Linked DNA regions of Homo sapiens. The protein of the gene in region 1 interacts with the protein of each later gene in a pairwise test. Each region holds a gene or a part of one and is shown on either strand. Other genes may lie near its edges.

What was found.
Region 2: the proteins of MMP7 (region 1) and LGALS3 interact in binary tests that used the Homo sapiens proteins (3 or more experiments, as listed by UniProt).

The regions. Positions count from the first base shown.
Region 1 is NC_000011.10:102,524,098-102,527,925, reverse strand, and holds part of MMP7 (matrilysin preproprotein), read left to right. Parts: coding exon 1-169; intron 170-253; coding exon 254-402; intron 403-2,861; coding exon 2,862-2,990; intron 2,991-3,828. UniProt on the Homo sapiens protein: Degrades casein, gelatins of types I, III, IV, and V, and fibronectin. Activates procollagenase.
Region 2 is NC_000014.9:55,135,603-55,139,430, forward strand, and holds part of LGALS3 (galectin-3), read left to right. Parts: intron 1-1,380; exon of another isoform or gene 1,381-1,767; coding exon of another isoform or gene 1,768-1,771; coding exon 1,772-1,789; exon of another isoform or gene 1,790-2,442; coding exon 2,443-2,766; intron 2,767-3,828. UniProt on the Homo sapiens protein: Galactose-specific lectin which binds IgE. May mediate with the alpha-3, beta-1 integrin the stimulation by CSPG4 of endothelial cells migration.

The DNA.
Region 1 (3,828 bases):
AAGCCAAACTCAAGGAGATGCAAAAATTCTTTGGCCTACCTATAACTGGAATGTTAAACTCCCGCGTCATAGAAATAATGCAGAAGCCCAGATGTGGAGTGCCAGATGTTGCAGAATACTCACTATTTCCAAATAGCCCAAAATGGACTTCCAAAGTGGTCACCTACAGGTTAGTTTTGCTCTGGCTCATTTTGGCAAAAACAATAAAGCCTGTTTCCTAGGGGTCAAACATTGTTTTCTTGTTTGCTACTAGGATCGTATCATATACTCGAGACTTACCGCATATTACAGTGGATCGATTAGTGTCAAAGGCTTTAAACATGTGGGGCAAAGAGATCCCCCTGCATTTCAGGAAAGTTGTATGGGGAACTGCTGACATCATGATTGGCTTTGCGCGAGGAGGTAAGAAAGATTCCTGTAGGCTAATCCTGTGTCCTGTTTTGTTTGTTCATGGTTTATATCAGTGCTCTTTTCTTATGAAGATTAAAATCCTTTAATGAGATATGATTGGTAGATAGATAGTTAATAGATAGATTTAGCAATATTATTATAATTTTTATAATCTGGTAATATAGAGCCACTTTTTATAGCAGCAGTTGGCAAACTATGATGCATGAGCCAAATCCAGCCCACCTTCTGTTTTTGTAAATAAAGTTTTACTGGAACACAGTCAGGCTCCTTCATTTCCCTATTACCTATGACTGTTTGGGCTCAGGCTGCAACTGTGACAGAGATCACAAAGCTTAAACACTTGTTATCTGACCCTTTACAGAAAAAGTTTGCCAACCCCTGTTTTGTAACGTGAATTATTATTTATATATACAGTCATGCACTGCTTAACAATGGGAATACACTCTGAGAATGAGAACTTTGGCAATCTTGTCACTGTGCTAACATCATAGAATACACTTACACAAACCCAGGTGATACAGCCCACTATCCACCTAGGCTACATAGTATAGCCTATTGCTCCTAGGCTGTAAATCTATACAGCATGTTACTATACTGAATACGGTAGGCAACTGTAACACAGTGGCAAGTATTTGTGTGTCTAAACGTATTTAAACATTGAAAAGGTAATGTATTGAGCTATGACATTATCACAACTACTATATCACTAGGCTATAGGAATTTTTCAGCTCCATTATAATCTTATAGGACCATTGTATATGTGATCTGTTTACTGAAAGATCATTATGTAGCACATGACTATATGTTTACAATATATCTACCTAACATCGATATTAAATCAACAGAAAGAGTCGCAGCTTCCAAAGGCCTCAAGAGTCCCCTGAGAAGTGGTATATGACCTGTTGCTAATGCCTTTCATGTGGCAAGGAAGTAGGAAATGGAAACTTTCATATTAAAGAACTTAAAAATATATAACACAGCAGGGTGTGGTGGCTCACGCCTGTAATCCCAGCACTTCGGGAGGCCAAGGCAGGTGGATCATCTGCGGTCAGGAGTTCAAGACCAGCCTGGCCAATAGGGTGAAACCCCATCTCTACTAAAACAAAAATTAGCTGAGCATGGTGACGCATGCCTGTAATTCCAGCTGCTTGGGAGGCTGAAGCATGAGAATCGCTTGAACCTGGGAGGCAGAGGTTGCAATGAGCCAAGGTCACACCACTGTATTCCAGCCTGGGCAACAGAGCAAGACTATGTCTCAAAAGAAAAAAAAAAAATATATATATATATATTTTTTTTTTTTACGTGGGTTTTTCTATATGTAAAACCCATTTTTTTAGTATATGTGTTATATATGTGTGTGTGTGTATATATGTATATATAAAACCCATATACATAAATTGTTCTTAATTGCTAGTGTTTCATGGTGCAAATTTAGAGAAAAATGTTGCCCATTTCAGTCTGTTCTATGTGGAATGGTCCGGCTACTGTAGCTGAAATTTGAACTTCAACCCACAATATTGACAACACCGAAGAAAATGTTATGGGAAAGCACTAATCATGGCACTACAAGTTTTTTAAGAGCTAGATAAACTGGACTGGCCTCATATCACCTCGAAGATAACCAGCTCTGCATCACACATTAAAGGACTATAAAAAGCCATTTTAAGAGATCTTGAGCATGGCTCTCTAAGAGACTATTTACTATGCCCACGAAGAATAAGCTAGGTTTTTAAGAAAAAAAAAAAAAAAAACCTATGAAATGGTGCACAAATTACTTGCCAAATGTGGTATTCATATTCATTCTCCCTCCCACCACCCTTTGGCCGAGCAAAGTGGTCAAATTTAACAAAAGCTTAAATGCAACCTTAAGTTAGATATAACTGCATTTTAAGTCCTGTATCCAGTAAGCTTTCAATATATGGTGATTATCAGTGATGAGCAATGGTTCTGTGAAAGGAAAAGTGTCTGGGCCAAGAAAGCACCCAAACTACCCTGTGAGTGCAACCGACAGCACATAACAATGTCAGCTACTTGCACTGGGCTGCCTTTTTTTTTTTTTTAATTTATTTTTTGAGATGGAGTTTCACTGTTGTCACCCAGGCTGGAGTGCAGTGGCGCGATCTCAGCTCACTGCAACTTCCGCCTCCTGAGTTCAAGCAATTCTCCAGCCTCAGCCTCCCAAGTAGCTGGGATTACTACTTGGTGGCATGTGCCACCATGTCCAAATTTTTGTATTTTTAGTAGAGACGGGGTTTCACCATGTTAGCCAGACAGGTCTCAAACTCCTGACCTCAGGTGATCCGCCCACCTCGGCCTCGCAAAGTGAGCCACCATGCCTGGCCTGGACTGGGCTGCTTTTTCTAGCCTCAATAATCGTATAAACTGAAAAATAAAATGACTGGAGAAAAAAAAAATCAGTCACTAAGAACAATCACTCCATTTTCTTTCAGCTCATGGGGACTCCTACCCATTTGATGGGCCAGGAAACACGCTGGCTCATGCCTTTGCGCCTGGGACAGGTCTCGGAGGAGATGCTCACTTCGATGAGGATGAACGCTGGACGGATGGTAGCAGTCTAGGTATAGCATCTCATGTCTCTTCTACTCCACATCCGTTTTAAAATCCTGGACTTACACTAAGTTAAATAATTATATTAATTTATAATAAGTATTGAGCCCTTGCTAAGTGCCAAACACTGTACTATATGCCTGAAATGCATTATTTCATGTAATATACTCATAATGCTACACACAGAAGATGGACACTCAGGCTATGGAGTCAAGCACCACTGATCCAATTTGCTGTACGTCTACCAATTACTCTGTGTCATTGGGCAAGTTATTGAATTTCTCTGAGCCTCAGTTTCCTCCTCTGTGGAATGGAAATATAAATAGTTCCCACATCAAGGAGTCTTTAAATTAAATGAGATAATGCTTATACAGTGCTTGGAATGTATTAATAATTAATTAAATTATAGCTCTTTCTTCATATTTCCAAAAAATACATGCCCCAAATGGAAAAGAAAGAGAAGTAGAAACTATGATATTTGAGAAGTATATGCAATTCTGGAATTATTCACTATTTTCCAGAAAGAACCAACTCCATGATTTAGTATATCATATTTATCATTTTACATAGTAGGATATTATAGGCACATGAGAGAACTAATGGAGAAGAGCTCTGGCATAAATAATCCCAATTAGAGACAATTTTTTTAAGGCTACCAACTGGCCCTAAAAGGGAAATTTGTACTTGTGTTTGGCAAAAGGAATTCACCATAGCTTGCTGTCTTGCTGTGAAAATCTATGTTAAATTGTGATGCTGCCTCCCATTTGCATCTGGCATATTCTTTTCATTCTTCTTTCTTCCCACTTAAGGTAGGTTAAAGGCAGCTTCCTTCAATTCAATGCAACGCCA
Region 2 (3,828 bases), on another chromosome or scaffold:
CACCCAGGCTGGAGTGCAGTGGTGCCATCACAGCTCACTGCAGCCTTGACCTCCTAGGCTCAAATGATCCTCCCACCTCAGCCCCTCGAGTAGCTGGGAACACAGGCATGCGCCACCACACCCGGCTAATTTTTGTATTTTTCATAGAGACAGGGTTTTGCCATATTGCCCAGGCTAGTCTTGAACTCTTGGGCTCAAGCGATTTGCCCACCTTGGCCTCCCAGTGTGCTGGGATTACAGGCATGAGCCACCACACCCAGCCAATATCTTGCATTTGAATCAAGTAGTGGACATTTATTGGATCCCTTGGGGCCGATGCCATTTCTAAAAGTGATTGAGTAAATATCACAGGTGGGCAAATCAAAGAGAAGGATATTCTGGTTGTTTCAAGGTCCAGGTAATTCAGGCCATGGCACAGGTGATCCTGAGCTTAGGAAGAACTCACCCATGCCTCAGGGGCCCAGCTGCCCTCCTCCCCTCACTGCTGGAGCACCTACAACAGCTGTGAAGCATCTTGTGCTTTTGGAGCCTTGACATGGGAAGGAACAGGAGAAAGCAGGACTGATGTCTCCAGACCACCCCTTAGGCAAACCCTCTTTGGTAGCATCTTAGACCCAAATATTTTTTTCCTTCACGTCACGTTGCCTGAATTTTTTCACCTTAGTTTGTTGTACTGCCAAATATTTTATTTGGAATAACAAGTACCTTTGAAAAAAAAAAAGCACATACAAACTTCAGCTCCCCTTTGAGGCTTAGCTCCAACAGCACCTTTCCTTTCCTTCTTAGAAGTAAGCTTTCTGGGTTTGAATTCCTACAGCACACATTCTGACTCATAGCATCTGTGACTTGTTATTTCACATTTCCATGGATGCATCTCATCTGCCTTGCTGCACTGTAGGCCCTTCGGCTTTTATTTTTTTTTAATTCTTAATCTTTATGGGTACATAGCAGGTATATATATTTATGGCATACGTTAGATGTTTTGACACAGGTATGCAATGCCTAATAATCACATCATGGAAAATGGGGTATCCCTCTTCTCATTTATTTGTGTTACAAACAATCCAGTTATACTTTTAGTTATTTTCAAACGTACAATGAAATTATTGACTATAGTCACCCTGCTGTGCTGTCAAATACCCGGCCTTATTCATTCATTATAACTATTTTTGTCACCCATTAACTATCCCCACCTCCCTCCCACCCTCCCTCACTACCTTTCCCAGCCTCTGGTAACCATCCTTCTATTCTATATCTCTGTGGGCTCAATTGTTTTGAGTTTTAGATCCTGTGGCCCCTTTGACCATGCAGATCATGGCCTATTCATCTTCACACCTAGATAGGAGCCTGCGCAGTGCCTGGCCAGGAGCAGGCATAAGTGTGTGCAAATAGAGGAATAAATAGCAGGGCAGCAACTATGTCTGGAGGTCATTGTCTTTCCTGTCTCAGTAGTAATCAATCACTGCTTATCTTCAAAAACCCAGAGTAGGGGATGGGGCAGTTAGTGGGGACAGAGGGCAGATGGGTAAGATTCAGAGCACAGGCTAGTGTGACGGAAGTTTAAACTTGTGAGTTAAATAGGGTTTGGCAATCTAGCTGGATAGCATCCCTGCCCCTTGAAGAGATGTTTTTGTGGCGCCACACTACTGACTTAGGCATAATGCCTAGAGATGGATTAGAACTGCACAATGAACTAGTGGTGAGGTTCAGTTTAATGGAAATTGGTGAAAGCTTTTAGGATAAAATGATAATCTTTGTTTCTTTCAGGAAAATGGCAGACAATTTTTCGGTAAGTGTTTTATGCCTGTTTCTTCCCCTTGATCAGCTCCACATGGTTGAGGGTTGGGGGTTTTGTTTTTACCATGACTTTCCCTTTTCACTCTCCCACTGCGTGGCTTCCCCTGGACTCATTTGTCCAATGAGGGCTTGCAAGCTGGAGCCTTGTTTTTCCAGCAGCAGATTTGGGAAGAAAGCCAGGCAGAGCGAGGCCTGGGACTCACTCACAGTAACCCTTTCACCAAAAGGCCCAGGGCGGAAGGGAGTGGACTCTGCCGGCAGGAGCTGAGAAATCCTCTGAGTAGCGGGAAGTGCGGTACAGTCTGGGCATTCTGATGTTTGTGATTGTTTTTCTCACGGTGATGAAAAAGTATGTGCTATAAGTAGAGGAGCGCTAACTCCTGACTTGAGCTAATTATGAAAATGCAGCCCTCCCTGATCTGAGACGTTGGGAGGCAAGAATAAAGTGAAAAAGTATATGTAATCCCAACATCTAATTTTAGTCTTAGAAACTCAAACTATTAATAAGTGGAAAAAGTTTAATGATATGCATGTAATGCCTTTGCCATATTCCTCTCCTTCTTAGATCACATATTCCTATTTTCCTGAAAATTCTGCTTTTGAGAATGCTTTCTGTCCCGTAATTGTGTATGTCTTTCTTTCCAGCTCCATGATGCGTTATCTGGGTCTGGAAACCCAAACCCTCAAGGATGGCCTGGCGCATGGGGGAACCAGCCTGCTGGGGCAGGGGGCTACCCAGGGGCTTCCTATCCTGGGGCCTACCCCGGGCAGGCACCCCCAGGGGCTTATCCTGGACAGGCACCTCCAGGCGCCTACCCTGGAGCACCTGGAGCTTATCCCGGAGCACCTGCACCTGGAGTCTACCCAGGGCCACCCAGCGGCCCTGGGGCCTACCCATCTTCTGGACAGCCAAGTGCCACCGGAGCCTACCCTGCCACTGGCCCCTATGGCGCCCCTGCTGGGCCACTGGTGAGATGGCATTCCTTCTTTCATGTACTTGACATGCAGAGGGCTTCAGGGAGACCCTGAGCTTTAAAGCTGCTGCTTAGAGCCACTTCTCAAGGGCCAGCCATGGGTGTATGTTGGTAGAGTCAAAAAATTAAGTGTTCATATTGAGCTTATTGTGTGTGGTTAGTATAAACAGAAGGTAATGAGTATTTTGAAGGCACTGATAAAACTGCTTATGAATATAAATCAAGATTGTAGTAATGGAGAACATTTTGGTTATTATTAACACTTACGGAGTACATGTCAATAGTATGCATCTACATGGATAATCTCATTTAACCCCATTACCACGCTATAAGATACTGTTAATAACCCCATTTCACACATGGGGAAATGGGGCAATAGAGAAGTGATATAATTTGTCCAGGGTCATTGAGCAAACATGTAGAGGAACCAGGGTAATCTGGTTTTGAAAAACCTTCTAAAGATAATTTTGTGATCTAAGGGTTGAATTTTCACGCAAATTAAAATATGTCATAGCAAGTGAATTCTAAGTGTAAAACATAACTCCATGGGGGATCCAGATACATCTCAGCCACAGGATCCTTCCTTTCCAGATTTATAATCTAGTTGGATGATAAAACATATAATAAATATGAGGAAAGAGCTAAGTACCAGTATGGGATTAGACCATTTCAGGACTATGCAGAAGACAGCACAAGGTAGCATTGTCTCCTTTTAGGTCAGTTTAGAGTAGAAAGACTTGGGGGAGTGGGTGGCATTGAGAGGGCCTATACCAGAGATGGTTAGTCAGTTGCAGAGAGAGGGAGACATGAAGGCTGTGGAAAGGAACAGGCAGATGTAAGAGAGATTACAGAGGAAGAACCCCCAGAATCTACTGATTATGTCTTAGGAGTCATAGAGGACTCTGACTTTTCAAGGCTGAGCAACTAGAGCCATCAGCAAAGCTTTAGCCCAAACTGGGAACTCATGAAGGGGAACTGATGGGGGAGGGGGTAGGGAAGACCATTCTAGTTCACACTTGTTGAATTTGAGGCACTAGCAGCAAATCTAGGTGGGAGG